Regions from separate parts of the Homo sapiens genome. Here all the other regions are linked to region 4. Evidence: fine-mapped expression QTL. A gene starts in region 4. Each other region holds a variant in brackets. All regions are shown on one strand. Distances are between the middles of the regions.

Region 1 (4,066 bases), 97 kb after region 4:
TCTGCCCACTTCGGCCTCCCGAAGTGCTGGGATTACAGGAGTGAGCCACCGCGCCTGGCCCTACTTTGGTTTTCTTAAGATGAGATCTCGCTCTATCACCCAGGATGGAGTGCAGTGGTGCCATCACAACTCACTGCAGCCTCAACCTCCTGGGTTCAAGCAGTCCTCCCAACTCAGCCTCCCAAGTAGCTGAGACCACAAACATGCACCACCATGCTAGGATACTTTTTTTTTTTTTTTTTTTTTTTGAGACAGAGTCTAGCTCTGTAGCCCAGGCTGGAGTGCAGTGGTACAATCTCACTCACTGCTACCTCTGCCTCCTGGGTCCCGATTCAAGCAATTCTCCTGCCTCAGCCTCTCAAATAGCTGGGATTACAGGCATGCGCCACCATGCCCAGCTAATTTTTGTATTTTTAGTAGAGATGGGGTTTCACCATGCTGGCCAAGCTGGTCTTGAACTCCTGATCTCGTGATCCACGCCTTGGCCTCCCAAAGTGCTAGGATTACAGGCGTGAGCCACCGCACCCAGCCTTTTTTTTTTTTTGGTACATCTTCTTTCATACCTATGGGGACCCCTCATTTCTAAGCCCATAGAGACAGGGCTTTGCTGGTTCCGAACTCCTGGCCTCAAGCAATCCTCCCGCCTCAGCCTCCCAAAGTGCTGGAATTACAAGGGTGAGCCACTGCACCCAGCGCATGTAAATCTATTTTGTATCAGTGCAGGATATAAATAAAACTACAGTACACTTAGACAATATTCATTTGCCTCTGAAACCGGCAGAATAAAAATAAACACAGTTCAAGAATTCATGCTTAGAAAATATAAATCTACTTTAGTAGAACATCTTTAGTTATTTTTCTGTTTTTAAAAAACTTTTTTTTTTTTTTGAGATGGGGGTCTATGTTGATCAGGCTGGTCTTGAACTCCTGGCCTCAAGTGATCCTCCTATCTCAGCCTCCCAGCATGCTAGGATTGCAGGCGTTGAGCCACTGCACTGGGCCATCTTTAGTTATTTTTAAACCACATGTATGTACTATTTTGACAAAAATTATACCTAAAAATATATATATTGAAGAAGAACACAAACCTTCTCCTGGACCTCCACCACCACCACCCTTTGGAGTAATGAGTTCTCGACGAAGCTTAGCAAGACGAGCCTTAAGCAGCCCTAAGTGGTGTGCTGTGGCCTTGTTCTTTTGAGTCCGAGCCATCTAAAAGGGAGGAATCACAGCCATAAATTAGAAGCAGTGAACGCTTCCCCCAGCTTTGAGAGGATAATTTTTTTCCCCAAGTCCTACTAATGTTAGCACACCCAGTTTACAGGCTTTAAAAGAGTAAAAGTCCATTATCTCCTCCATCCAGCTCATTTCCCTCACTACAAAGCAAAGCAAAGCCCAAAGAGGAAAGACGATTAAGGTCATTCCAATTAGTGCCCCCAGACTAGACTGAAACCCGTCTGCGGGTTCCTTTTCTACTATTTGCAGCTGTTTGGATCCATCTAACACTGGGACACCACTTTCCTAATTGTAAAGCGCTCTCAGGGCCGCACGCAATGGAATCACACACTATCCAGGCGGAATAAACTGCTCCCACACAGATGTCATTTTACTTCCAGATCCGATTACCGGGAGCAAATACTCTGAATCAGGGGGTCATTAGGGTAGACACTGGGAAAAGGGGGAATAAGGGGGACGCAGCGAAGGATGATGAGGAAAGATCCTGAACTATCTGACCAAGTCAGAGATGGAATAAGGGACAGGATTCAGTGT[TTC/C]TCAGAGCAAAACGGAAAGAAACAACATCAGAACAGGAGCCAAACACTGGGAGGGGGAACGGACTAAGGGCCTAAGGTGCAGGGGTGCGGAACGCGGGCCCGGGCAAAGGGGAGTCCGAGAGCGTAGACGCGGGACGAGGGGAAAGGGGGCCCTGACTGAGGAGAGTCGGGGACTCCTAATCGTGGCAGAGGGCAGTCGGAACACGGGCCTCGCTGAGAGAAGTCGCGGAATCTAGGCCCGGTCCTGACGCGGCTCAAAGGAGAACAGGAAGGAGCGACGCCACCAAAGAAGGAATGCTCAGACTAAGAGTGAACCGCCAGCTGCGTCCATTACCTCTGCTTCTATCTCCGCGATCTTAGCTAAGGTGCTGCTCATCGTGGCGAGTACCCTGTGGCCTCCACACTGTCTCCCTTCACACACCCGCGGGCAAACTGCCACCGCCACCAGGCGCTACTGCAGCACGCAGGCGCGGTACTTCGAATTACCGCGAGAGAGTTCCGCGTAGGGGTCACCGCGAGTCGCAAAGCGTGGGGCTGTCTCCTCCCCCTCACCCGACCCCGCCCCGTCCCGCGAGCCAGTGCGGTGTCATAGAGCCCGCGGGAGCGGAGGCCAGAGAGGCCACCCCTGTCTGGGCCTCCCCGAGCGCGCCGAGGGTCGCGCGCAGCTCGGCCCCGCCCAGCGGGACCCGCTCCCAGCTGCTCTGCATGGTACTGAACGCTTCAGTGCTGGAGACCCCAGGGCGTGGTGCAAAGCCGACTCATGCTCCGCACCCCTGTTCCTCGCCAGCATCTGCGGGTCCTGGGTCCCTTTTTCACAGCTGGGGTGACACCCCGACGCCCTCCATGGTCTTGGAGGGAGTAGAGACCCATCTTCAGCCTGCCTCACCCCCTTGGATAAAGAAAATGCCCCCTTTCTATCATTCAAAATTATTTTTAGGTCGGTTTTGTTTACTCCGAACCCCGAGTAGAGCACATGGGGAGCCCAAAATAAGTGCATACTTGAATGGATAATTCCCAGAGAACTGCTGCTTGCAACATAGTTTGTAATACCAAAAAATTGAAATCTATATTAACACCCATCAGTAGGAAAATGGATAAATGAATAATGCCTCTATCCTGTTTTTGAAATATGATTACAGCCGTTAAAACGTAGATCTGTGGTCTGACTGGCTACCCAGGACATGTTAAATGGGAAAACAACTAGCAGAAGGGCACCTACGTAGTGATACCATTTATGTTATTTTTAAAATTAAATGTACATTTATATAGGTGTACGTGTATGAACGTGCAGTTTAAAGGCCTAAACAGAAAAATACATCAGAAGCTCTTAACTGTGGGATGGGATGCAAAGAAAAGGCCTTTCACATTTTATTCCACAGAATTTTGAAGTTAAATTTTTACAAGACGAATGTATCCATGTATTACTTGTGTAATAATAAAATTTAAAATTTCAAAAGACTCCTCTTCCCCAAGTGTCATGAGGAAGCCAGGACGTCCAGGAACTATGTGGTGGTTTTGAAAGCGGTTTGCCTCAGGATCAATGGGTTGTTTTGATAGATTGATTATTCCAGCGGGAGTCGACAGGCCAGGCTTAACCCACAGTCGACAGGCCAGGCTTAACCCACAGGGCTGGCCTCCACCCAGCCCTGGGAGGGAAGTTTAATTTAGTTAAATTTGTAAACAAGAACTATTCTAACTTCCCAGAGACAAAAAAGGGAGGTTTTCTTGTGCATAAAGAGGGAGAAACAGAAGGGAAAGCTTTTACAGAAGGTCCCCAAAGGGCCAAAGAGAGTTTCTTCTTTCTTTTCTTTAACCTCAGCCTTTTTCATAAATAAATTAAGGGATGATGAGGTAATTAGATCCCACACTATTAGCAATGGAGGAGGGAAGATGAGGAGGTCCAGCTGGAATGGGACATGATCAAAGATCAATCTTAAAAGACAGATAAAATCAAATCAGCAGGCCTATCCTAACTTGAAGTACTTAAGGAATTAATTGGCTGACAATATCAAGGGCATCACTGCTCTGTGAGTAGGTGCTCCTTAGCAAATCTATTATATGAGGCCTGCAGATAAGTTAACACTTACTGCTCAAAGACACCCTGGGACCCACCTTGGGGCCCTGAACTGTCAATAGGCACCAAAGAGTAATACTCATTTTCCCGAGTCCTGGGTGGCCATCCTGTTCATGCAATCGTTATTTACAGAGCTCCAACTGCTGCCTGGCACTGTGACAACACTGGGGACAGAGTAGAGAGTGAATCAGATATGTTCCTGCACATAACAAGTATTTAG
Region 2 (4,066 bases), 81 kb after region 4:
TTTTAATTTTTATTTTTGTAGAGACAGGGTCTTGCAATGTTGCCCAGGTTGGTCTCGAACTCCTGGCCTCAAGTGATCCTCCTGCCTCAGCCTCCCAAAGTGCTGGGATTACAGGTATGAGCCATTGCACCTGACCCTGACCCCTCATTCTTTTTTTGAGATGCAGTAGAGACAGCATTTCACCATGTTGTTCAGGCTGGTCTTGAACTCCTGACCTCATGATCTGCCCACCTCGGCCTCCCAAAGTGTTGGGATTACAGGCGTGAGCCACCATGCCCAGCCTCAGTGGTAGACTTTTTTTTTTTTTTTGAGATGGAGTTTCACTCTTGTTGCCCAGGCTGGAGTGCATTGGTGCGACCTCAGCTCACAACCTCTGCCTCCTGGGTTCAAGCAATTCTCCTGACTCAGCCTCCCAAGTAGCTGGGATTACAGGCATGGACCACCACTCCTAGCTAATTTTGCATTTTTAATAGAGACAGGGTTTCTCCATGTTAGTCAGGCTGGTCTCAAACTTTCAACCTCAGGTGATCCGCTCGCCTCAGCCTCCTAAAGTGCTGGGATTACATGCATGTACCACCATGCCCAGCCTGATTTTATTTTATTTATTTTATTTTTTTGAGATGGAGTCTTGCTCTGTCATGCAGGCTGGAGTGCAATGGCGTGATCTCGGCTCACTGCAACCTCCGCCTCCTGGGTTCAAGCTATTCTCCTGCCTCAGCCTCCCAAGTAGCTGGGACTACAGGCATGCATCACCATGCCCAGCTACTTTTTGTATTTTTAGTACAGACAGGGTTTCACCATGATAGCCAGACTGGTCTCAAACTCCTGATCTCAAGTGATCCACCCCCCTCAGCCTCCCAGAGTGCTGCAATTACAGGCATGAGCCACCAAGCAGCCATGATTTTATTTTTATTATTATTATTTTTTGACACAGAGTCTTGCTCTGTCGCCAGGCTGGAGTGCAGTGGTGCAATCTCGGCTCACTGCAACCTCTGCCTCCCAGGTTTAAGCGATTCTCCTGCCTCAGCCTCCCGAGCAGCTTGGGACTACAGGCGCGCACCACCACACCCAGCTAATTTTTGTATTTTTAGCAGAGACGGGGTTTCACCACCTTGGCCAGGTTGGTCTCGATCTCCTGACCTGGTGATCCACCCGCCTCGGCCTCCCAAAGTGCTGGAATTACAGGTGTGAGCCACCATGCCCGGCCTTATTATTATTATTATTTTTTTTTTTGAGACAGGGTGTCTGTGTGCTGCCCAGGCTGCAGTGCAGTGGCATGATCATGGCTCACTGCAGATTGACCTCCTGGGCTCAAGAGAACCTCCTACCTCAGCCTCCCGAACAGCTGGGACTACAGAAGCATACCACCACATCCAGCTATTTTTTTTTTTTTTTTTGAGACAGAATCTTGCTGTCACCAGGGTGGAGTGCAATGGTGCAATTTCCGCTCACTACAACCTCTGCCGCCTGGATTCAAGCGATTCTCCTGCCTCAGCCTTCTGAGTAGCTGGGACTATAGGCACACGCCACCATGCCCAGCTAATTTTTATATTTTTAATAGACACGCGGTTTCACCATGTTGGCCAGGATGGTCTCGATCTCTTCATCTTGTGATGCACCTGCTTCAGCCTCCCAAAGTGCTGGAATTACAGACTATGGAATTACAGGTACCTGCCACCATGCCTGGCTAATTTTTGTATTTTTAGTAGAGATGGGGTTTCACCACGTTGGCCAGGCTGGTCTTGAACTCCTGACCTCAGGTGATCCACCCACCTTGGCCTCCCAAAGTGCTGGAATTACAGACTGTGAGCCACCACACCCGGACGGCCAGTGATATCTTAAGCCCAGTGACTGAAGTGATAGAAAAGGAGGTCAGAGAGGCAGCCAGGGGCCAGGTCATTTACCGTAGCTTGTAAGCTATGTTAAGACTTTGGGTCTCATCCCAAATAATATGGGAAAACATCAGAAGGTATAGCCAACAAATGACATGATCTGACTTCTTTTTTTTGTTTGCTTTCTTGAGACAGAGTCTCACTCTGTCACGCAGGCTGGAATGCAGTGGTGTCATCTCACCTGACTACAACCTCCGCCTCCCAGGTTCAAGTGATCCTCCCATCTCAGCCTCCCAAGTAGCTAATTTTTGTATTTTTAGTAGAGATCGGGTTTTGCCGTGTTAGCCAGGATAGTCTGGAACTCCTGGCCTCAAGTGATCTGCCTGCCTCTGTGCTGGGATTACAGTCATGAGCCATCGTGCCTGGACTGATCTGACTTCTTATACACAATCATACTAGCTGTAGTGAGAAGATACTACAGAGCAGTAGGATAGCAGCAAGAAGGCCAGTTATGGGGCTATAATGTTAGAGACAAGGCATAATGAAGGAAGTGACAATATAGGTGAAGAGTTTG[C/G]AGTCACTACGAATCAAAGGGGAAAAAAAAAGAAGGTGTTGGGGAAAGTGACCCATTATACAGAGAAAATTAAAATTGGATACCCTTCTAATATCAGATATAAGAGTAGTCTCTAGGTAAATAAAGGACCTAAAAGTATAGAAAAAACAGGAGACTATATCTAAGACCTAAGGAAAGATAAGGACTTCTTAAATAAAACTTTAAAAGCACAAACCATAAGAAAAAATAAAGAGTAGGCCAGGTGCTCACACCTGTAATCTCAGCACTTTGGGAGGCCGAGGCAGGCGGATCACTTGAGGTGAGGAGTTCTAGACAAGCCTGGCCAACATGGTGAAACCCCGTTTCTACTAAAAATACAAAAAAATTAGCCAGGCGTGGTGGCACACACCTGTGGTCCCAGCTACAAATAAAGTGTAGATTCTAACAAAATTAAGGATTTTTATTCAACAAATACCACCTTGGACAAAATTAACGGGAGAAGATATTTATAATGTCTAAAGATGACAAGGAATTAATATCGAGAGCAGTGGTATCCAATAAAAGTTTCTGTAATAATGAAAATATTCTGCATCTGTACTGTGCAATACAGTAGTTACTAGTCAAGTGTAGCTAATAAACACATAAAATGTGGTTTACATAATTGAGGAACTAAATTTTAAATTTTATTCAATTGTAATTAAATGTTAGTCACATGTAACTAGTAGATATCATATTAGACATAGAATTTAAGAGAAATACTTGAAAAACAGTAAGACAACAATCACTGCCTAGGCAATATATCGAGATTCTACCCCTAAAAAAGTAAAAATCAATCAGCCTGCCATGGTCGTACATGCCAGCAGTCCCAGCTACTCGGGAAGCTGAGAAGAGAGAGACTCTCGAGCCCGGGGTTTTCGAGACCACCCTGAACAACATAGTGAGACTGTCTCTCAAAAAGTAAAAAATTAGCGGGTATGATGGTACATGCCTGTAGTCCTTAGCTACTCAAGAGGCTAAGAAGGAAGGATCACCTGATCCCAGGAAATTGAGGCTGCAGTGAGCTGTGATCATGCCACTGTACTCCAGCCTGGGCAAGAGAGCAAGATCCTATCTCTAAAAAAAAAAAAAAAAGAAAATGTGCCATGAACTGAGAAGCATGATTAACTCAACCTTTTGGTAGAGTTTCCTCCTTAGCATAGTAGCCAGCATGTCAGTCACATAAGTTTTTCACTTAAGGATGAAAAAGGGGGAAAAAAAGAGTGGCTGGCCTCTAGATATATTTCAAAGGTAAAACCAGCTGGATATAACAACACAGTAGATGTGCGGGATGAAAGGGAAAAAAAGATTTGACCTAAAAGTTCTGAAGGATAAATTTGCCTTTACTGAGATAGAAAAGACTAAGGGAAGAGCAAGTTGAGGATGGGAGATCAAGAATTTTTTTGTTTTTTAATTTTTAAATTTACTTTCATTTTTTAATAGAGATGAGGTATCACTATGTTGCCCAGGCTGGTCTCAAACTCCTGAGCTCAAGTGATCCTCCCGCCTCAGCTAAGATCAAGAATGTAATCTTACACGTTAACTTTGAGACACCTAATTAGACATCCAAGCAGAGATATGTTGGCAGCTGGTATGCACTTCATCAGAGGGCAAATTACTGCCACACATTTCATAATCATTAGAA
Region 3 (4,066 bases), 310 kb before region 4:
TAATTCTTTTTTAGTTTTTACAGAAATGGGGTCTCACTATATTTGTTGCCCAGATCGGTCTCAAACTCCTGGCTTCAAACAATCCTCCTTCCTCAGCCACCCAAAGCACTGGGGTTACAGGCAAGAGCCACTGCACACAGCCAGAATTTTCATTTCTTTATACTAAGATCTGACCTTTTTATCATATTTCCCCTTTGCTGCAATGCATATCTGCATCTTTGTCTTTATCCCCACTGGTATCTGAGTGGCTTCAACATCTGAATAAAACAGTCAGGTCACAATAAAACGAACTCTTAAACAAACAAACAAAAAATGAACTCTTGGTCTTGGTCATATTTTTCTCAAAGGTATTTCACGCAGTCTGGCCTTGGCCTTGTTATTTATTTATCTAATGTATAAAGTTATAAAGTTTGGGGATGAATTTCTTAACCCTGTTCATGGCCATTGGGAAAGATGAGGGTACCTCAGGACTAAAATAACCCTATCAATGCGTGATAGTCCACAAAGGCTCTCTGCTGATTAATGAAATCTACCTTCTTGGCTGGGCAGAATGGCTCATGTCTGTAATCCCAACACTTTGGGAGGCTGAAACAGGAGGACTGATTGAGTCCAGGAGCTCAAGATAAGACTGGACCACATAATAAGACCCCGTCTTAACAAAAATAAAAACCTACCTTCTTTCCTGCCAGTTTTATTCGTGGGGTGAAACTATTACAAAAGAGCTGGCTTTTGGATGTGTAGAAACTGTAAAAGAAACAAACAGAGTCATTAATCTAAATTCCCTTTATTTTAAAACTCAAAACACAGTTAAAATACTAGGCATGGATCAGCCCTCCTGACATGGGCTTTGTTCTCAGCTTCACTAATCTTCCCAATTTTAACTTCTTTTACAAGAATTCACTACAAAACATTAGTTATGTTTTGTTTTTTGGTAGAGACAGAGTCTGGCTACACTGACCAAAATGGTTTCAAACTCCTGGCCTCAAGCATTCCTCCCACCTCAGCATCCCAAAGTGCTGGGATTACAGGCATGAGCCACTGTGACCGGCCTGAAATTGCTACTTTTGTAGGTCAAAAACAGTCTAATATCATGATATCAAATAGTATAAACTAATAGCTGCAGCTTTGCCATGAACTTGCTATTCAAGACCAGGTTGGCCAACACAGTGAAATCTCGTTTCTACTAAAAATACAAAAATTAGCCGGGCGTGGCGGCAGGCACCTGTAATCCCAACTACGCAGGAGGCTGAGGCAAGAGAATCACTTGAACCCGGGTGGTGGAGGTTGCAGTGAGCCAAGATCATGTCACTGCACTCCAGCCTGGGTGACAGAGTGAAACTCCGTCTTAAAAAAAAAAAAGAAAGAAAGAAAGACAACCCAGAGAAGGATAGAATGCTCTGGAAGCACTGAAGAAAAAGTGGCTGTTAGCTATCAGGGCAGCACAGGAGGAATTCATAAAAGAGAGATGCTGGAGTTGGATCTTGGAAGAAAATAGGCATTTTCAGGAGAAGGGTAGGTGGAATAAGATTAGTGTCATAGTTCAAAAAGATGAGGCACTGGCACTGGCAGAGGGATGAGAAAAGCCATCCCTGAGCTGGAATCAGCAGGATTCCATGTAAAGAGGCGCGGGGACTTCTCTAGAGCTGAAGGAGGTCAGGTACAAATGTTGGTCTTCTACAGTCTGTGGGAGTTGGGAATAGAAGGACATGGGAACTGCAGAGGAAGTAAGTCCTTCAAATTTTGTTTTTATTCTTTTTCACCATAGACTGTTCCTATGATACTGCTACTGCTTTGTGTGTACAGAGCTTTGAGCAAATGTTAGAACTTGGTTTCCACATTTTCTTAACAAAAGGTTTAGTGCCATAATAAGAACTTAACAGATTTAAAGAAAAATGGCAAGGAAGCTGTTCAAAACGCTTATCACCTACTATTGATCGAGATCGCACCCACCTGTGGTTTATCCAGTGAGGGATATTATAGTCATCGCCCAGACGAGAATCAC[G/A]GGGAGCACTCCGATTATGGAGCTGCAAGGAGAAAAATGAGAGCACAGATAAGCTACAGAACAAGTAGGTTTTGGAACTGCTCTAACTTTTCTGTTTTTCAGGTTTTTAAAAAAAATTTTTTAGGGCTGGGCGCTGTGGGTCATGCCTGTAATCCCAGCAATTTGGGAGGCCAAGGCGGGCGGACCACCTGCAATCAGGTGTTCAAGACCAGCCTGGCCAACATGGTGAAACCCCGTCTCTACTAAAAATACAAAAATTAGCCTGGCATGGTGGCAGGCGCCTGTAATCATAGCTACTCGGGAGGCTGAGGCAGGAGAACTGATTGAACCCGGGAGGCAGAGGTTGCAGTGAGCCAACATCGCACCATTGCACTCCAGCCTGGAGGACAAGAACAAGACATCGTCTCAAAAATAATTTTTTTAGAGATAGAGTCTTGCTTTGCTGCCCAGGCTGGAGTGCAGTGGTTATTCATAGGCATGTTCATAGCAAACTATACCGAAACTCCTAGGCTTAAGGGATCTTCCCACTTCAGCCTCTCGAGTAAGTGGGACTATAAGTGCATGCCACAGCGCCTGGAATTTTTCTCTTTCTAACTATACTCCAACTGGCCTTTAGTAAACAAATCCGAAATCTAATTACCTTGAACAATGGGACAGCATGTAACGGTTGCTCTCCCATGCACACCAAATCCACACCAATTCCTAAAAAAAGAAAAGACAAAAAGAATTGTGGGGAGGGAATGGCAGAGACAAGTGTCCCTATCTATAAATCATGTTATTTAAATGGGTAGTAGGCAAAGCTAACTTACCATTGTATGATTTATAACCTCATAGTGCTGCCTATCCAACAAAGAAGTAAATACATTCATTTTGTCTGTTTCCTCTTTTCCAAGTGCCCTACTAACGTATCATTATTCGGTGCTTGACAATTAGCCTTTGACTGTCCTACAGGTCATGACTTGTTTAAAAAAAGACAACCAAACTTCCATGTTTAAATTTTTAAGGCCAGAAAGGAACAGTAACTTTGTAATATCTCAGTAAAAAGTAAAACAATCCACATCACTTAACAGAGCTTCTTTAGTGGCATCAGGATTTACTTTCCAAACTCCTTTTTTTTTTTGACAGTCTTGCTCTGCTGCCCAGGCTGACATGCAGTGGCGTGAGATCACGGCTCACTGCAACCTCCACCTTCTGGGTTCAAGCAATTCTACTGCCTCAGCGTCCCAACTCCATCTTGTTGATGAAACAAATCAAATTGGGGGGTGTGGGGCTGAGTTGGGGATACGAGGCACATCATGGAGGAAGGACTGGACTAGATGACCTGATAGTGCATCTGAAAATGGGCTGACAGCGGCTGGGTGTGGTGGCTCATGCCTGCAATCCTAGAACTTTGGGAGGCCAAGACGGGCGGATCACAAGGTCAGGAGATCGAGACCATCCTGGCTAACACGGAGAAGCTCCACCTCTACTAAAAATACAAAAAAAATTAGCCGGGCATGGTGGCGGATGCCTGTAGTCCCAGCTACTTGGGAGGCTGAGGCAGGAGAATAGTGTGAACCCAGGAGGCGGAGCTTGCAGTGAGCCAAGATCACACCACTGCACTCCAGCCTGGGAGACAGAGCGAGACTCCGTCTAAAAAAAAAAAGAAAGAAAGAAAATCGGCTGACAGCACATGGGTCCCTTGAAATCATCCCTCCAGGAAGGCTTCTCTAGTGCCAAATATGTTTGGGGAACTCAGAGTACCCTGACACAACCTTTAGAGAAAAACAACCTACACTAACATATTAAAAACTGAGGAAGACCTGTCATTATGGAACCTGCTTATCTTTGCATGACCCAGCATTTCCCAAACTGATTTGACCATGAAATTTTAGCACCTGACACCTATTGACATCCACAGACGTTGTGACACACAGAACACTATGTAGAGCTCCTCACACTCTAAGAAGTCAGTGAAGCTCACAGTTCTAAGGGGAAATCAGGCTAGGAACATGTGGAGACAGGGCACAAACCAGAGAGCATTACCATTATCTATCATCCGCTGCTTGGTCAGGATCATGAGTA
Region 4 (4,066 bases):
GCCGGGCATGTAGTGGCTCAGGTCTGTAATCCCAGCACTTTGGGAGGCCGAAGCAGGTGGATCACATGAGGTCAGGAGGTCAAGAGTGTGCCATGCACTCCAGCCTGGGCAATAAGAGTGAAACTCCATCTCAAAAAAAAAAAAAAAGAAAAAAAGAAGCCACTCCTCATCCATCCAAGTTTTATCATGAGGTTGCAGCAATTGGTCACATTTTTAGGCTCCCCTTCTAATTCCAGTTTGCTTGATTTTTCTATCATATCTGCAGTTACTTCCTCCACTCGGGTCTTGAGTCTCTCAGTTATCCATGGCGGCCTGACTCAACTTTTTCAAACTCCTTTTAATGATTTTTTTTTTTTTTAGACGGAGTCTTGCTCTGTCGCCCAGGCTGGAGTGCAGTGGTGCAGTCTTGGCTCACTGCAACCTCTGCCTCCTGGGTTCAAGCAATTCTCATGCCTCAGCCTCCTGAGTAACTGGGATTACAGGCGCCCACCACCACACCCAGCTAATTTTTGTATTTTTAGTAGACACAGGGTTTCTTCAAGTTGGCCAGGCTGGAATTGATATTTTAACCCCTTCCCACAAATCATGAATGTTCTTAATGGCACCTAGAAATCCTTTCCAGAACATTTTCAATTTACTTTGCCCAGATCCATCAGAGGAATCACTACCTATGGCAGCTATGGGGTCACAAAATATATATATATTTTTTTGATATGGAGTCTCATCACTCTGTCGCCCAGGCTGGAGTGCAATGGCGCAATCTTGGCTCACTGCAAGCTCCGCCTCCCGGGTTCAAGTGATTCTCCTGCCTCAGCCTCCCCAGTAGCTGGGATTATGGGTGCCCGCCACCACATCCGGCTAATATTTTGTATTTTTTAGTTGAGACGGGGTTTCACTATGTTGGCCAGGCTGGTCTCAAACTCCTGACCTCGTGATCCACCCGCCTCGGCCTCCCAAAGTGCTGGGATTACAGGCATGAGCCACCATGCCCAGCCCACAAAATGTATTTCTTAAATAATGACTTGAAAGTCAAAATTACTCCTTGAACCATGGGCTATAGAATGCATACTGTGTTAGCAGACATGTAAAGTAACATTAATCTCTTTGTACATCTTCATCAGAGTTCCTTGGTGACCAGGTGCCTTGTTAATGACCAGTAATATCTTGAAAGGAATCCTTTTTTCTGAACAGTAGGTCTCGATAGTAGGCTTAAAATATTCAGTAAACCACACTGTAAATATGATGTAAAGACATTCAGTAAAGAGATGTGTGGTCATCCTGGGTTTGTTGTTGCATTTACAGAGCATAGGCATTTCTAGCTTCGTCATTTCTAGCTTCGTCATTTCTAGCTTTTGATATAAAGTGAGAGACATGGAACTCTTCCTTTCACTGAACACTTAGGGGCCACTGTGGGGCTATTAATTGGCCTAATTTCAATATTGTTGCCTCTCAGGCTACAAGGAGGACCGAGAGGGAGGAGAGAAACAGGGAACTGGCAGGTAGTGGAGCAGTCAGACACAACACTTAAGTTTGCTGTCTTATACCAGTGAGGTTCGTGGCCACCTAAAACAATTGCAATAACAACATCAAAGATCACTGATCACAGATCACTGTAACGGTGCACCTGAAATAAAAAGTTTGAAATATAGCGATAGTTACCAAAGTGTAAGTGACAGGAAGTGGGCACATGCTGTTGAAAAAATAGTTGCTCGGTGCAGGGCTGCTTGCTACAAACTTTCAATTTGTAAAAAACACGGTATCTGTGAAGTGCAATAAAGCGAGGTATGGCTGTACTCAAGTCCCTCACATCATTCATTCAACAAATATTTACAACACATCTACACAGCAGTTAAGAAACCTGAACAGCCTCCCATAAAAACAGGTACCCACCTCCCACGCGGGGAAGGCTTCCAGGTTTGTTTACTGCGTTACTCCCTGCGGGCTCAGTGGGAGTAAGGTCGCCCATATACCAGCCCTTCCGCTCCTGGGCCACGGAGCCGGGAGGAGGAAACCCCTGATTTGGATCCGCGCACGCTAAGGGGCATTGCGTGGACTCGAGCACCGGCCAGGAGCGCACTAGACGCCTGGGAGGATGCGGTGCCCCCAGGGCGGAAGACAAGAAGCCGAGAAGACGCGGCGGGAGAGGATGGCAGGCTCCGGGCCCCGTCCTGCGCCCTCTTGTCGCACTTCCTCCATTCCCGCACCACAGACCCGCAGGTAGACAACATCACCTGCACTTTCAGGGGAGGAAGCGGAGGCTCGGACAGATTTCACCGGGCTCGGAGGAACCCGACTGAGGTCCTTGCCGGGCTCACTGCCGGAAAGGCCGAGCCCAGAAGAGGGTGGGGACGTTAGGGCCGGGCCTCGTACCTGGGGAAGCCGAGCCATCGGGCCTGACGTTGGGAGAAAACCCGGCGGTATACGGCGATCCGGGACCTGCTTCTTAACTCCCGCGCGGTCCACGCCCGCCTCAGCGCTTCGCGCGCCTCTAGACGCCAGTCTCGCGCGGGCCCGCCCTCGTCTCCACGGCGACGCGGCGCGCACGAGGACCACCCCGCCCAGACCCCGGGGCTTGCGCAGCCTCAGTCGGGTAGGTGGCGCACTTCGGGTTGCTTTGCAGCAGCAGCAATGAGAATCGGTTTCGAGGGGCGTGGAGCATGCACCCTCTGGGCATCCCCACCGAGGGTTCTTTATCTCCTTGGCTCGCCAGCTTCGCTCTGAGCTCAGCTTGCTACTGCTCCTCTTAGACAAGAGAAGTGGGAGGTATTCCGAGGCGGAACCCCGAGTTACGCCGCCCGCGGCCGAGCACTAAAGATGAGGTTCCAGCTGGGAGGCGGCTGCGTACGAAAGTCCTCCCTCCCTCACTTCCGGACTCGTGCGTGGGCCTCTCTGGCTTTTGGTTCACAGGGAGTGGAAACCGGAACCCGTGGAGTATGACCCGCCCATGCGTGGACCCGGCAGGTTGCTACAACTTGCACTTGGAGGGGAGAGGTCCCAAGGCCCCCGAATTAGAAATGCCAGGCTCATCTCTTTTTGTAACCCTTCATTTTAAAATGTAATTAATAAGCACTCTTTTTGTTAAATTTTTAAATTTGGGCCGATCCTAATAATCTTAAAAATAGGAGTGGGAGGGGTAAGTGGGACTTTTCAAATACTTTTTTACGTGCTTTGTAAAACATTTGAAAGCACGTGAGATTCCTGGTGCAGAGACTAAAAGCAGTAGTTATTTATTTGAAAGATTTTACGCTAAAAACAGGAAAATTAACTTGTTGGGTGTCTCGGGCTTAGCATCACAGACAATTTGTATTTTTGCCCTATTTTCTACATGCTAATTTTTGCAATTAAAACATTTATTATTTATTTTTTGAGAAGGAGTCTCCCTCTGTAGCCCAGGCTGCAGTGCAGTGGCGTGATCTGGGCTCACTTCCACCTCCACCTCCCGGGTTCAAGTGTTTCTCCTGCCTCAGCCTCCCAGGCGCACGCCACCACGCCCGGCTAATTTTTTTTTGTTTTTTTGATAGAGACGGTTTTTACCATGTTGGCCAGGTGTGTCTCGAACTCCTGACCTCAGATGATCCGCCCGCCTCGGCCTCCCAAAGTGCTGTGATTACAGGCATGAGCCACCGCGCCTGGCCCTAAATTATGTTTTATATGGTGAAACCTCGTCTCTACTAAAAATAAAATTTAAAAAATTAGCCGGGGGTGGTAGTGGGCACCTGTAATCCCAGCTACTGGGGAGGCTGAGGCAGGAGAATCGCTTGAACCCAGGAGGCAAATGTTGCAGTGGGCCGAGATCGTGTATTTGCATTTGCCTGGGCAACAAGAGCAAAACTGTCTCAATAATAATAATAATAATAATTTAAAGGGAGTTCTACTTTAGCGGACATCAATGCTAATGTTTTAGGGACAACTTTTATCTGAACTTAATGTGGCCAAGTAGTTTTAAAATAATTTAGTAAGCTTCAAGGTTGTAATTAACAGTATAACAAAAATATATTTACTGTAATTTAGCCTAAGTACTTTTATGTAATTATGTAAATTTATATAAATTATATATTTAGGATAA
Region 5 (4,066 bases), 89 kb before region 4:
TTTATATCTTTTTATACTTCCTAAATTTTCTATAATATCTACACATTGCTTTTCTATTTTTTATTATGGGCATTTTCAAATGTAAACAAAAGTAGAAGCCGACAGTATAATGAATACCCATGACCCTACCATCAAGCTTCAACAGTTAGCAAACATTCGCCATTCTGCAAAGAGCCATCCTTTGGTATTTGTGGGGGACTGGTTCCAGGGCCCCTCTCAGATACCAAAATCCATGGATACTCAAGTATCTTATATAAAATGGTATAGCAGGCCGGGTGCAGTGGCTCATGCCTGTAATCCCAGCACTTTGGGATGCTGAGGCAGGCAGAGCTTGGGAGTTTGAGACCAGCCTGGGTAACATGGTGGCACCCCACCTCTACAAAAAAAAAAACAAAACACAAACATTAGCTGGGCGTGGTGGCTTGCACCTGTAGTCCCAGCTACTTGGGAGGCTGAGGCAGGAGAATCGCTTGAGCCTGGGGAGAGTGAGGCTGCAGTGAGCCAAGATCATGCCACTGTACTCCAGCCTGGGTGACAAAGTGAAACCTGTCTCAAAAACAAAACAAAACAAATAAATTGGCATCTGCATATAACCTACACAGTCCTCCTGTATGCATCTCTAGATTACTCATAATACCCAATACAATGTCAATGCTATGTACATAGTTGTTATGCTATATTGTTTATATATTGTTTAGGGGCTAATGACAAGAAAAAAAGGTCTGAATATGTTCAGTACAGACACAACTACTCTTTTTTTCCTCTGAATATTTTTTATCCATGGTTGGTTGAATCTATGGATGTGGAACCCACAGATACAGAGGGCTGACTGTATGTTACTTTTTAAAAAGGAAGAAACCCACAAAAAATAATATTTTTATCTTGTCTAAGAATAGAAAGATCTGATGTGCTCCTGGGATACCTATACCAAGAGGTGATATTCAGATTGTTAGCTAAAGGTTTAGGAATGACTAAGCAGTGCTCTTCCCATTTTTCAGACCCGCTATACCTTTGAAAGCAGGCCGTGCTAGATCAGTGTGAGAGATGAAAACGCTGACCCTGGACTGTCCGCCAGTGTTGGGCCCCTGTGTCAAGGGGAGTGCTCGTTTTCCAGGAAGGAAATAAAAGAGACCCTCTGCTCTCCACCTTGAATAAATACAACCTTTCAACTCTGACACTCATAGTCTTTTTCTGAAAGGCTTTCCTGCATTCTGGTGAACTTGTATTACATGAACTTAAGATAACAAGTGGCAATGTCTTTTCAAAGCCAGTAACATAATCCAAAGGCATGTCAAAGAATGCAGTGACTCTAGCATTTCTTAAGTGTAGGAGGCAAGAGTGACGCAAAAAGAGGCCATGCCCTGTAGCATCCAAGCTCTATCGACTTAGATCATCCTTGGAAAAAAACTCTGAAGAAATCAACAGCAGTTCATTTGTTGGTCTGTGCATTAATTCATCCAAATATTAGCACATATCCCATGCCAAGCACTGTGGGCTAAGGAGGCAAAAGGGACAGGCTGTACTCTAAAGGACTTCACAGCCTGTGGGGAAAGAGAAGCCAGTGAACAACTATAAGATGAATGTTCTGATAAAGCTATGCCTCTGGGGTAGGGGTGGAGGTGGACTGGCCTGGGGGAGGAGGTGACATCTGAGCTGGAAGGGAGTGTGAAATAGAGAACTGGAGGTACAAAGAGAAGCAGGAGGGCACAGAGGACCTTTAGGGAACCACTGGCAGCTTAACTGGTCAGAGTGCAGTTGTGAAGGAACAGAGTGGTAACAGGAAAGGGGAGAGAAACAGACAGGGACCAGCTCCCGAAGGAGTTTGTAGGCCTTGCTAAAAATTTGGATTCTATCCCCAAACTATAGGGAACTAGCTAACAGGTGAATCTAAAGATTCACCTGTTAGACTCCAACAGAAGATGGAGGTACGGGTAGGGTGGGCA[G/A]CACGAAAATAACTGGGAGGAGTTTGGTTTGTGTCTTCCTCTGTTTCACTGCCAGAGATGACCAAAAAGGGGGCACTTCTCACAATGGCAGATGCCATCAACTGAACCCTTTCCCACTGAGTGTAAATATGGCCTTGAAATCCTTCTCACTTCAACATTCCAGACAGGTACTCCCAATTGGTAGAACGGGCTTGTAAGGTCACACTCATTTGTCACCCTGGTGCTAAAGTATGAGCCCTGGGAGAGCAGGAATTTTATTGACTTTATATCACAGTTGTATCCTCAGTGCTTAGTGCAGTGTCTGAAGAACAGCAGTTGCTCAATAAGTATTTCTTAAATGGAATTGAATCTATCTTTCTCAATCTGCCTTTACTTATTTGTGGTCCTGACCTCACATCCTCCACCCCCGGGAGACATGTGTCTCACACTGTTTAGCACTGGGATGCAGCACTTATGCTCTGCACCTCTCCCTGTACCTCTTGCAGGTCCCACTGGGTGAAGGGCTGGCTAACTCAGAGACTAAATGAATTTGAGTAAAGATGTGAATGGCTGATAAGAGCTCAGTACTTTCAGAGAGAACTTGTATTTTCATAGCAGATAAGAAATGGGAGTTATGCAGACTTTCTGATATTAGAGGTGGGAACTGGAAGAAATGACTTTGAGCTTTTTCAACACCCTCTCTTCCAAAGCAGAACGATAAGACTTCTTGGCATAGGTCTTTTCCAAGAATCTTTCCAAAGCAAATGGGTCCAAGAATGTAAGCCAGTAGAGCTATCTGCTAAAAAGTACTCCATACCTGCTTGTACCGCCTCTTCTGAGTATACTGTAGCCACAATTCGATACATTTGCACAGCAGTGCTATTCTGAAACAAAAGGAAGAACACCTTCAGGTTTCAAGTTTTTAAAACTTTGTTTTAAGGCAGGTAAATTGCGGTACAGTTACTTCCTGTGAGTTAAAGGCACCCCATGGGCTTACTAGTTTCATTCTAGGAGAGACGGCAATAAGAACCTGATATCTAATATAAAATTTGTCAACCTCTGATTTTGGACTGTGGATTGCCTAAAATGTTGCAACTTTCTTGTAAAACCTAATTAGACCACCGAAAGCACAGTAGCTCTGGAATTTAGGAAATATGTGTGAAATCCCCTAGATATCCTGAACTTTCTGGTTTCATGGCCAAACGCTGGGGGTCCACGACATGTTGCCTCTCACACTAGGTTTTGTAAACCAGGGTTTGGAATAATATGCCTTGATAACTCTAAATGAGTCAGTTTATTATTGGGATTCTCACTAACTCATTAAAAAATGCTTCAAAATTGGAGCTAAACTATGCAAATTAAGTTGATTATACTGTGGGGAGAGGAAAAAAGGAGGGCAAAGAAAGGAAGGACATATTGAACATTTCTGGCAGCAAGAAAGTTTATACGTAGTGCTTCCTTCTGAGGAGTAAGATCTTACTCTTACTTGTAGGGAGGGGGCCAGGCAACTTTTATTTTTCCCTTTATACTTTCCACCCTATACATTCTGAGTTTTCCTCACAGAAATGTAGTGTTTTTATTTATTTAACTGAATGACTAGCTCTAAAATATTGAGGACATTCCCTGCACACTTTAAGACTGAGTCACAAATGTCCCTGACCCTTCTCTTTAACACTAGCAATGCATGAATTCTAACTTGTGAACATATTGATGCCTGTAGGACCAAGGCAGTGAGCGACCAGGCACATACTTCAGACTATGGTGGCCAAGAACCAATGCAAATATGCTCATTCTATCTCCCATCTGATCAGCCAAAAACCCAAAGTCAGGAACAAATGGTTTACAGCAGGACCTCCACCCCAGCAGGCCTTTCTGAATCTGCCACACTAACGCATAGAAGGGCAAGCAATTACTCCTGGAAAACAGTAAGTCAGAGGCACAAAGTCCCTGAGAGCCAGGGATGAAACCAGAGTCCCTACCTGTAGTGGTCCCAGGCAGCATGCAGTAAGGGGAGCAGCTCTCTTTCCTTTTTCTGCTCAATCTGAGACCGCCAGAGGTTCCAGAACCTGTGCAGCAGCTAAAGCAAGGGAGGAAGAAGATGGAAATGTACTGAGATGAAAGGTAAAACAGTGAATCCTTACTCC
Region 6 (4,066 bases), 56 kb before region 4:
CCAAGAGTGAATGGACACTCCCTGAGGTCTAGGGGAATGGCCTGAAATAACTTGTCTTATGTCAGAAATAACTCTTGCCTCTTGAGTAGCTGGGACTGCAGGCATGCACCACCACACCTGGCTAATTTTTGTATTTTTTTGTAGAGATGAGGTTTTGCCATGTTGCTTGGGCTGGTCTCGAACTCCTGGGCCCAAGCAATCTTCCCACCTCAGCCTCCCAAAGTGCTGGGATTATAGGCGTGAGCCACCGCCTATAAAAAAGTCATCCAAGTGACTTTTTCCTTCTATTCCATAATATCTAGCTAGATTCACTGTAACTATAAATAAGACAGCAGAATGTACATTCTTCAAGTAAATATAGAACATTTACAAGATAGAGCATATTTGGGGCCACAGAACAAACCTTAACAAAAATAAAGGAACTGAAATCATACTAAGTCTTGTTCTCTGACAATAATAGAATAAACTAGAAATCCTTAACAGAAAGATATTGGGAAACTCCCAAATATTAGAAAACTAAACACACTTCTAAATAATCTGTGGGGCAAAGATGAGGTCTCAGGGAAAATCAGAAAACAAGTTTTTACTGAATGAAAACAGAAATATAACTTATTAAAATTCGTGTAATATAGTTAGTGTTTAAGAGAACTTTATAGCAGTAAATGTCTCTACTAAAAATACAAAAAAAAAATTAGCCGGGCGTGGTGGCAGGTACCTTTACTCCCAGCTACTCAGTAGTCTGAGGCAAGATAATTGCTTGAACCCAGGAGGCAGAGGCTGCAGTGAGCCGAGATCACGCCACTCTGCACTCCATCCTGGGTGACAAAGTGAGGCTCCATCTGAAAAAAAAAAAAAAAGGCTGGGCGCAGTGGCTCAAGCCTGTAATCCCAGCACTTTGGGAGGCCGAGGTGGGCGGATCACGAGGTCAGGAGATCAAGACCATCCTGGCTAACACTGTGAAATCCCGTCTCTATTAAAAATACAAAAAATTAGCCGGGCGGGGTGGTGGGCACCTGTAGTCCCAGCTAATTGGGAGGCTGAGGTAGGAGAATGGCGTGAATCCGGGAGGTGGAGCTTGCGGTGAGCCGAGATCGTGCCACTGCACTCCAGCCTGGGCAATAGAGCGAGACTCCATCTCAAAATTTAAAAAAAAGAAAAAAGAAAAAGAAATAATAAATTAACTTAGCAAGGATGCAGGATATACAAGATCCATATGTAAAACTACAGAATGTTTAGGAGAAAACATAAGAGGAAATCTTTGTGACCCTGGGTTAAGGCAAAGTTCTTAGAGATGACATCTAAGATAGGATATGAAAAAATATAATCCAGCTGGGCACAGTGGCTCATGACTGTAATCCCAGGGCTTTGGGAAGCCGAAGTGGGAGAACTGCTTGAGGCCAGGAGTTTCAGACCAGCCTGGGCAACAAAGCAAGACCCCCATCTCTGTAAAATATAAAAAACTTAGCCAGGTATGGTGGGGCATTGTCTGTAGTCCCAGCTACTTGGGAGGCTGAGGTCAGAGCCTAGGAGTTCCAGGCTGCAATGGGTTATCCTCACACCACTGCACTCCAACCTGGGCAACAGTGGGACTCTCGCAAAAAAAAAAAAAAAAAAAAAAAAAAAAAACATAATCCATTAAAAAAAAATAGAATGGACTTCATCAAAATTAAAAACTTTTCCTCTGCAAAAGATACTGTTAAGAGAATGAAAAGACAAGTCACAGACTAGGAGAAAACATAGCAAATCATGCTTTGACAAAATGCTTATAACAGAATACATATTTTAAAAAACCAGCTGGGCTTGGTGGCTCACCCCTGTGGTCCCAGCACTTTGGGAGGCCGAGGCAGGTGGATCCCCTGAGGTCAGGAGTTCCAGATCACCCTGGCTAACATGGTGAAACCCTGTCTCTACTGAAAAAAAAAAAAAAAAAAAAA[AT/T]ACAAAAATTAGCTGGGCATGGTAGCGCACCATGTAGTCCCAGCTACTCGGGAGGCTAAGGTGGGAGAATCACTTAAACCCGGGAGGTCGAGGTTGCAGTGAGCCGAGATTGCGCCACTGCACTCCAGCCTGGGCAAGAGTGAGATTCCGTGTCAAAAAAAACCAAACCAACCAAACAAACAAAAAACTTTCAAATCTCAAAAAGAACACAAACAACCCAATTTAAAAGGACAAAAGATCATGAACAGATACTTCACCAAACAGATATAAATAGCAAATAAGCACAGGAAAAGATACTCAACATCACTAATTATCAGAGAAATGCAAACTAAAACCACAATGAGATATCATCTTACACTAGTCAGAACGACTGTTATTAAAAAGTTAGGCTGGGTGCAGTGGCTTATGCTTGTAATCCTAGCACTTTTGGAGGCTGAGGAAGGAGAATCACTGGAGCCCAGGGGTCCAAGACCAGCTTGGGCAACATAGCCAGACCCTGTCTCCATAACATATAAAAAGTTAGCCAGGTGTGGTAGCACATGCCTACGGTCCCAGCTACTCAGGAGTCTGAGGTGGGAGGATTACTTGGCCCAGGAAGTCAAGGCTGCAGTGAGCTATGACCAAGCCACTGCACTCCAGCCTGGGTGACACAGCAAGACATCCCCTGTCTTTAAAAAAAAAAAGTTTAATAACAGATGTTGGCATGCACGTGGAGAAAGGGAACACTTAACACACTGGTGGTGGGAATATAAATTAGTTGAACCTCTATGGAAAACAGTATGGAGATTTCTCAAAGAACTAAAAACAGAACCACCATTCGACCCAGCAATCCCACTAGCGGGAATCTACCCAAACGAAGAGAAATTATTATATTAAAAAGACACCTGCTCTCATATGTTCACTGCAGCACTATTCTCAACAGCAAAGTCATGGAATCAACCTCAGCATCCATCAACAGATACAGAAAATATACACCACAGCCGGGCGTGGTGGCTCATGCCTGCAATCTCAGTACTTTGGGAGGCCGAGGCAGGCAGATCACTGAGGTCAGGAGTTTGAGACCAGCCTGGCCAATATAGTGAAACCTTGTCTCTACTAAAAATACAAAAATTAGTTGGGCATGGTGGCACACGCCTGTAGTCCCAGGTACTTGAGAGGCTGAGGCAGAAGCAACACTTGAACCCAGGAGGTGGAGGCTGCAGTGAGCCGAGATCACACCACTGCACTCCAGCCTGGGTGACAGAGTGAGACAGTCTCAAATAAAAAAAAAAGAAAGAAAATACACACCATGGAATACCACCCAGCCATAAAAAAGAATGAAATCATGTCCTTTGCACCAACATGGATGGAGCTGGAGGCCATTATCCTAAGTGAACTAACTCAGAAACAGAAAATCAAATACCACATATTCTCACTTATAAGCGGGAGCTAAACTGTTGGTACACACAGACATAAAGGTGGAGATAATAGACACTGGGGACTCCAAACGAGGGGAAGGGAGGGTGGAAGAGGCCCAAGGGTTGAAAAATTACCTATCATGTACAACGTTCACTATTTGGGTAGTGGACAGTCAAATCTCCATCATTATGCAGTATACTCATGTAACACCAATTTTTAAAAACCCACAATTAAATGCCTGTATACACCTATTAGTATGGCCAAAGAAAAAATTTTAATGACAATACAAAGAGGTCAAGAGGATGCAGAGCAAGTAGAACTCTCGTGAATTACTGGTGGGAATGCAAAATGGCACAGCCATGATAAAAAACCTTGCCAGTTTCTTATAGAATTAAACTTAAGGCCAGGCACAGTGGCTCACACCTGTATTGCCAGCACTTTGGGAGAGCGAGGCAGGTGGATTGCTTTAGTCCAGGAGTTTGAAACCAGCCTGGGCAACATGGCAAAAGCCCATCTCTACCAAAAATACAAAAATTTAGCTGTATGTGGTAGTGTGTATCAAAGTCTTAGAACTGAACTTCAAAAAGAATGAATCTTACTGTATGTATTAAAAAAATAAACAACAAACAGCGTAAGTTACTTACCAGTGAAACAGTGCATTTGGTGCAGTAATCATGAGGCTTGGGTAAGAGCTTCTCATACTTTGGGAATACAGACAGGGGAAAGATCACTG
Region 7 (4,066 bases), 120 kb after region 4:
CTGTAATCCCAGCAATTTTGGAGGCCGAGGCGGGCAGATCACTTAAGGTCAGGAGTTCCAAGACCAGCCTGGCCAACATGGTGAAACCCTGTCTCTACCAAAAATATAAAAAATTAGTCGGGTATGGTAGTGCGAGTTTGTAATCCCAGCTACTTGGGAAGCTGAGAACCTGGGAGGTGGGGGTTGTAGTAAGCCAAGATTACACCACTGCATTCCAGCCGGGGCAACAGAGTGAGACTCCCTCTCAAAAAAAAAAAAAAAAAAAAAAAAAGGCCATAGTGAAGTAACATCTCAACAGAAAAATGAAAAATATAAAAAATGGGATTCATGGAAAAGTACAATGTCAGAAATGAAAAATTCACCATGGAGAGTTAACAAAAGATTAAAAAGTACAGAGTAAAGCTAAAATAAACTTGAAGGACCAATAAAAGTTATCCAAGTTGGAAAAACAGAAAGGAAAAAATGAACAGAGTCTTAGTGTCTCCTGGGCCACTAGCAAACTATAACACCTGTAATAGGAGTCCACAAGGAGAGAAGAGATAATGGAGTGGAAAAACTATGTGAAAAAAGAAAGGCCAAAACGTCCTCTTTTTTTCTTTAGAGAAGGGTCTTTCGTTGTGTGGCCCAGGCTGGTGTGGCACAACCATAGTTCACAGCAGCCTTGAAATCCTGGGCTAAAACAATCCTCCCACTTCAGCCTTCTAAGTAGCTGGCATGCACCACCACACCCAGCTAATTTCTAAATTTTTTTTAGAGGTGATTTATTGCTGAGGCTGGTCTCAAACTCCTGGCCTCAAGCAATCCTCCAAATTCAGCTTCCCAAAGTGCTGGGATTACAGCATGATTCACTGCACCCAGCCTAAAATTGTCTTTTATATTTTTAAAATTTCTTTAAAGGACAACTGTTTAAAGCAAAAACAAAAATATTGTATTGTGAGATTTTACAACACTCATAAAATATAAGACTATCGTAGCACAGAAGACAATATTGAGGGTGTAAATGGAATCATACTGTTGTGAGAGTTTTACATTTTTCATAAAATGATACAATATTAAGGCCGGGCGCAATGGCTCATGCCTGTAATCCCAAAGCTTTGGAATTACAAACGAGGTCAGGAGATCGAGACCATCCTAGCCAACATGATGAAACCCCATCTCTACTAAAAATACAAAAATTAGCCGGATGTGGTGGCACACACCTGTAGTCGAAGCTACTTAGGAGGCTGAAGGAGGAGAACTGTTTGAACTTGGGAGGCAGAGGCTGCAGTGAGCCAAGATCGCTCCACTGCACTCGAGCCTGGTGACACAGCAAGACTCTGTCTCAAAAGAAATAAAAATAAAAAATGGCCACAAATAAGTACTAGAAGATATATACTTGAAAATGGCTGAGAAAGTAGTTTTTAAGTGTTCTCACCACAGAAAAAAAAAGTATGAGAGGTAAGACATATGTTAATTAGTTTGATTTAGCCATTTCACATATTCTACAAATTTCAAAACATCATGTTGTACACCATAAATATATATAATTTTGTAAATTAAAAAAATAAATTTAGGCTGGGCGCAGTGGCTCATGCCTATAATCCCGGCACTTTGGGAGGCTGAGGTGGGCAGATCACCTGAGGTCAGGAGTTCAAAACCAGCTTGGCGAACAAGGTAAAACCCCGTCTCTACTAAAAATACAACAATTAGCCAGGCATGGTGGCACGTGCCTGTAGTCCCAGCGACTCGGGAGGCTGAGGCAGGAGAATCACTTGAACCCGGGAAGCGGAGGTTGCAGTGAGCCGAGATCATGCCACTGCACTCCAGCCTGGGCAACAGAGTGAGACTCATCTCAAAAAAAAAAAAAATACAAAATTGAGCCAGGCGTGGTGGTACGCGCCTGTAATCCCAACTACTCAGGAGGCTGAGACATAAGAATTGCTTGAACCTCGGAGGTGGACCCAAGATTGCGCCACTGCACTCCAGCCTGGGTGACAAAGCGAGACTGTCTCAAAAGGAAAACAACAAGAAAACACACCATGGGTGAGACCCCATCTCATATAAATAAATAAATACACAATGATCCCTACTGTTTGGGAGGCTGAGACAGGAGGATCACTTGAGCCCAGGAGTTCCAATTCCTCCTGGGAAACACAGTGAGACTCTGTCTAATAAATAAATAAATAAATAAGCCATGACAAGTCCAGAAAGATCTTGAAAGAAAGGAAAAAGCTTTAAATGTTATTACCTTTTTTTTTTTTGAGAGGGAGTCTTGCTCTGTCCCCCAGGCTAGAGTGAAGTCCGCCTCCCGGGTTCACACCATTCTCTTCCTCAGCCTCCCGAGTAGCTGGGACTACAGGCACCCGCCACCATGCCCGGCTAATTTTTTGTATTTTTAGTAGATATGGGGTTTCACGGTATTAGCCAGGATGGTCTCAATCTCCTGACCTCGTGATCCGCCACCTGCCTCGGCCTCCCAAAGTGCTGGGATTACAGG[C/A]GTGAGACACCGTGCCTGGGGGCTATGTTATTACTTTCAACAGCACATTTTTTGCCAGGCACGGTGGCTCACGCCTGTAATCCCAGCACTTTGGGAGGGCGAAGCGGGTGGATCATGAGGTCAGGAGTTCGAGACAAGCCTGGCCAGCATGGTGAAACCCTGTCTCTACTAAATATAGAAAAAAATTAGCCAGGCATGGTGGCACGCGCCTGTAGTCCCAGCTACTCTGGAGGCTGATGCAGGAAAATTGCTTGAACCCAGGACGCAGAGGTTGCAGTGAGTGAAGATCGCGGCACTGCACTCCAGCCTGAAGATTGCAGCACTGCACTCCAGCCTGGGTGACAGGGCGAGACTCCATCTCAAAAAAAAAAAAAAAAAAAAAAAAAAAAAAACAACCAAAAAACCAGCACATTTTTTTCCCCTGCCTTTTGTACAAAGGTCCCTGCATTTTCATTTTGCACTGAGTCTCAAAAATGACACAGCCAGGCTAGGCGTGGTGGTTCATGCCTGTAATCCCAGCACTTTGGGAGGCCAAGGCAGATGGATCATCAGAGGTCAGGAGTTCGAGACCAGCCTGGCCAACACAGGGAAATCCCATCTTTACTAAAAATACAAAAATTAGCCGGCCATAGTGATGCATACCTGCAATTCCAGCTAGCTGGGAGGCTGAGGCAGAAGAATAGTTTGAACTTGGGAGGCAGAGGTTGCAGTGAGCAGAGATTGCACGACTACACTCCAGCCTGGGTGACAGAGTGAGCTATCTCCAAAAAAAAAAAAAAAAAAATTACACTGCCAGCCATAGGCACTGCCAAAAGAAAAACCCTGGGATCTCTGCTTCTGAGTGAAGTAAAAGGAAAAAAAAACCTAGGTGAGATAGCAGTCCTGTTTATCTAGCTTTAGTACAAGATGTATTAACAGCAACATGTACCTGGTCATGCCAAAAACCAATGTTCAAGTTTTTTAAAAAATTTGCCTTAGTCCATTCTAGTCTTTTTTTTTTTTGACGGAGTTTCACTCTTGTTGCCCAGGCTGGAGTGTAATGGCACGATTTCGGCTCACTACAACCTCTGCCTCCCGGGTTCAAGTGATTCTCCTGCCTCAGCCTCCTGAGTAGCTGGGATTACAGGTGCCCGCTACCATACCCGGCTAATTTTTGTATTTTTAGTAGAGATGGGGTTTTGCCGTGTTGGCCAGGCTGGTCTCGAACTCCTGACCTCAGGTGATCTGCCCGCCTTGGCCTCCCAAAGTGCTGGAATTACAGGTGTGAGCCACTGTGCCCAGTCTAGTCTGAGTTTTTATTTTTATTTTTATTTTTATTATATTTATTTATTTATTTTATTTTATTTTTTTGAGACAGTTTCGCTCTTGTTGCCCAGGCTGGAGGGCAATGCACAATCTCAGCTCACTGCAACCTCCGGCTCCTGGATTCAAGTAATTCTCCTGCCTCAGCCTCCTTAGTAGCTGAGATTACTGGCATGTACCACCACGCCCCGCTAATTTTGTATTTTTAGTAGAGACAGGGTTTTACTATGTTGGTCAGGGTAATCTGGAACTCCTGACCTCAGGTGATCCACCCGCCTCGGCCTCCCA

Evidence for each region.
Region 1: its variant is fine-mapped to the expression of SFI1 in whole blood (TOPMed, PIP 0.99).
Region 2: its variant is fine-mapped to the expression of SFI1 in whole blood (TOPMed, PIP above 0.99).
Region 3: its variant is fine-mapped to the expression of SFI1 in hypothalamus (GTEx, PIP above 0.99).
Region 5: its variant is fine-mapped to the expression of SFI1 in whole blood (TOPMed, PIP above 0.99).
Region 6: its variant is fine-mapped to the expression of SFI1 in whole blood (INTERVAL, PIP above 0.99).
Region 7: its variant is fine-mapped to the expression of SFI1 in whole blood (TOPMed, PIP above 0.99).

The regions. Positions count from the first base shown.
Region 1 is chr22:31,397,766-31,401,831 of GRCh38, reverse strand. It overlaps DRG1 (developmentally regulated GTP binding protein 1), which reads right to left and starts at 2,228. Exons shown (of 9, transcript NM_004147.4): 1 at 2,107-2,228; 2 at 1,089-1,212. The coding sequence starts at 2,148. RefSeq lists enhancers at 2,119-2,168, 1,296-2,201 and a silencer at 2,289-2,568. The variant TTC/C (reference allele first, on the strand shown) is at 1,771.
Region 2 is chr22:31,414,231-31,418,296 of GRCh38, reverse strand. All of the region lies in intron 4 of DRG1 (developmentally regulated GTP binding protein 1), which reads right to left. Among named protein-coding and RNA genes, the nearest start is that of DRG1, 17 kb to the right of the region's middle. The variant C/G (reference allele first, on the strand shown) is at 2,407.
Region 3 is chr22:31,802,800-31,806,865 of GRCh38, reverse strand. It overlaps DEPDC5 (DEP domain containing 5, GATOR1 subcomplex subunit), which reads right to left. Exons shown (of 43, transcript NM_001242896.3): 15 at 4,028-4,066; 16 at 2,643-2,704; 17 at 1,951-2,024; 18 at 675-744. Among named protein-coding and RNA genes, the nearest start is that of DEPDC5, 51 kb to the right of the region's middle. The variant G/A (reference allele first, on the strand shown) is at 2,003.
Region 4 is chr22:31,494,942-31,499,007 of GRCh38, reverse strand. SFI1 (SFI1 centrin binding protein) reads right to left here and starts at 2,472. Exons shown (of 33, transcript NM_001007467.3): 1 at 2,371-2,472. RefSeq lists silencers at 1,451-1,510, 2,411-2,630 and an enhancer at 2,121-2,390.
Region 5 is chr22:31,583,808-31,587,873 of GRCh38, reverse strand. It overlaps SFI1 (SFI1 centrin binding protein), which reads right to left. Exons shown (of 33, transcript NM_001007467.3): 13 at 3,902-3,999; 14 at 2,740-2,806. Among named protein-coding and RNA genes, the nearest start is that of MIR7109, 36 kb to the left of the region's middle. The variant G/A (reference allele first, on the strand shown) is at 1,944.
Region 6 is chr22:31,551,399-31,555,464 of GRCh38, reverse strand. The region is part of intron 6 of SFI1 (SFI1 centrin binding protein); the gene reads right to left. Among named protein-coding and RNA genes, the nearest start is that of SFI1, 57 kb to the right of the region's middle. The variant AT/T (reference allele first, on the strand shown) is at 1,935.
Region 7 is chr22:31,371,736-31,375,801 of GRCh38, reverse strand. No RefSeq gene overlaps it. Among named protein-coding and RNA genes, the nearest start is that of DRG1, 26 kb to the left of the region's middle. The variant C/A (reference allele first, on the strand shown) is at 2,477.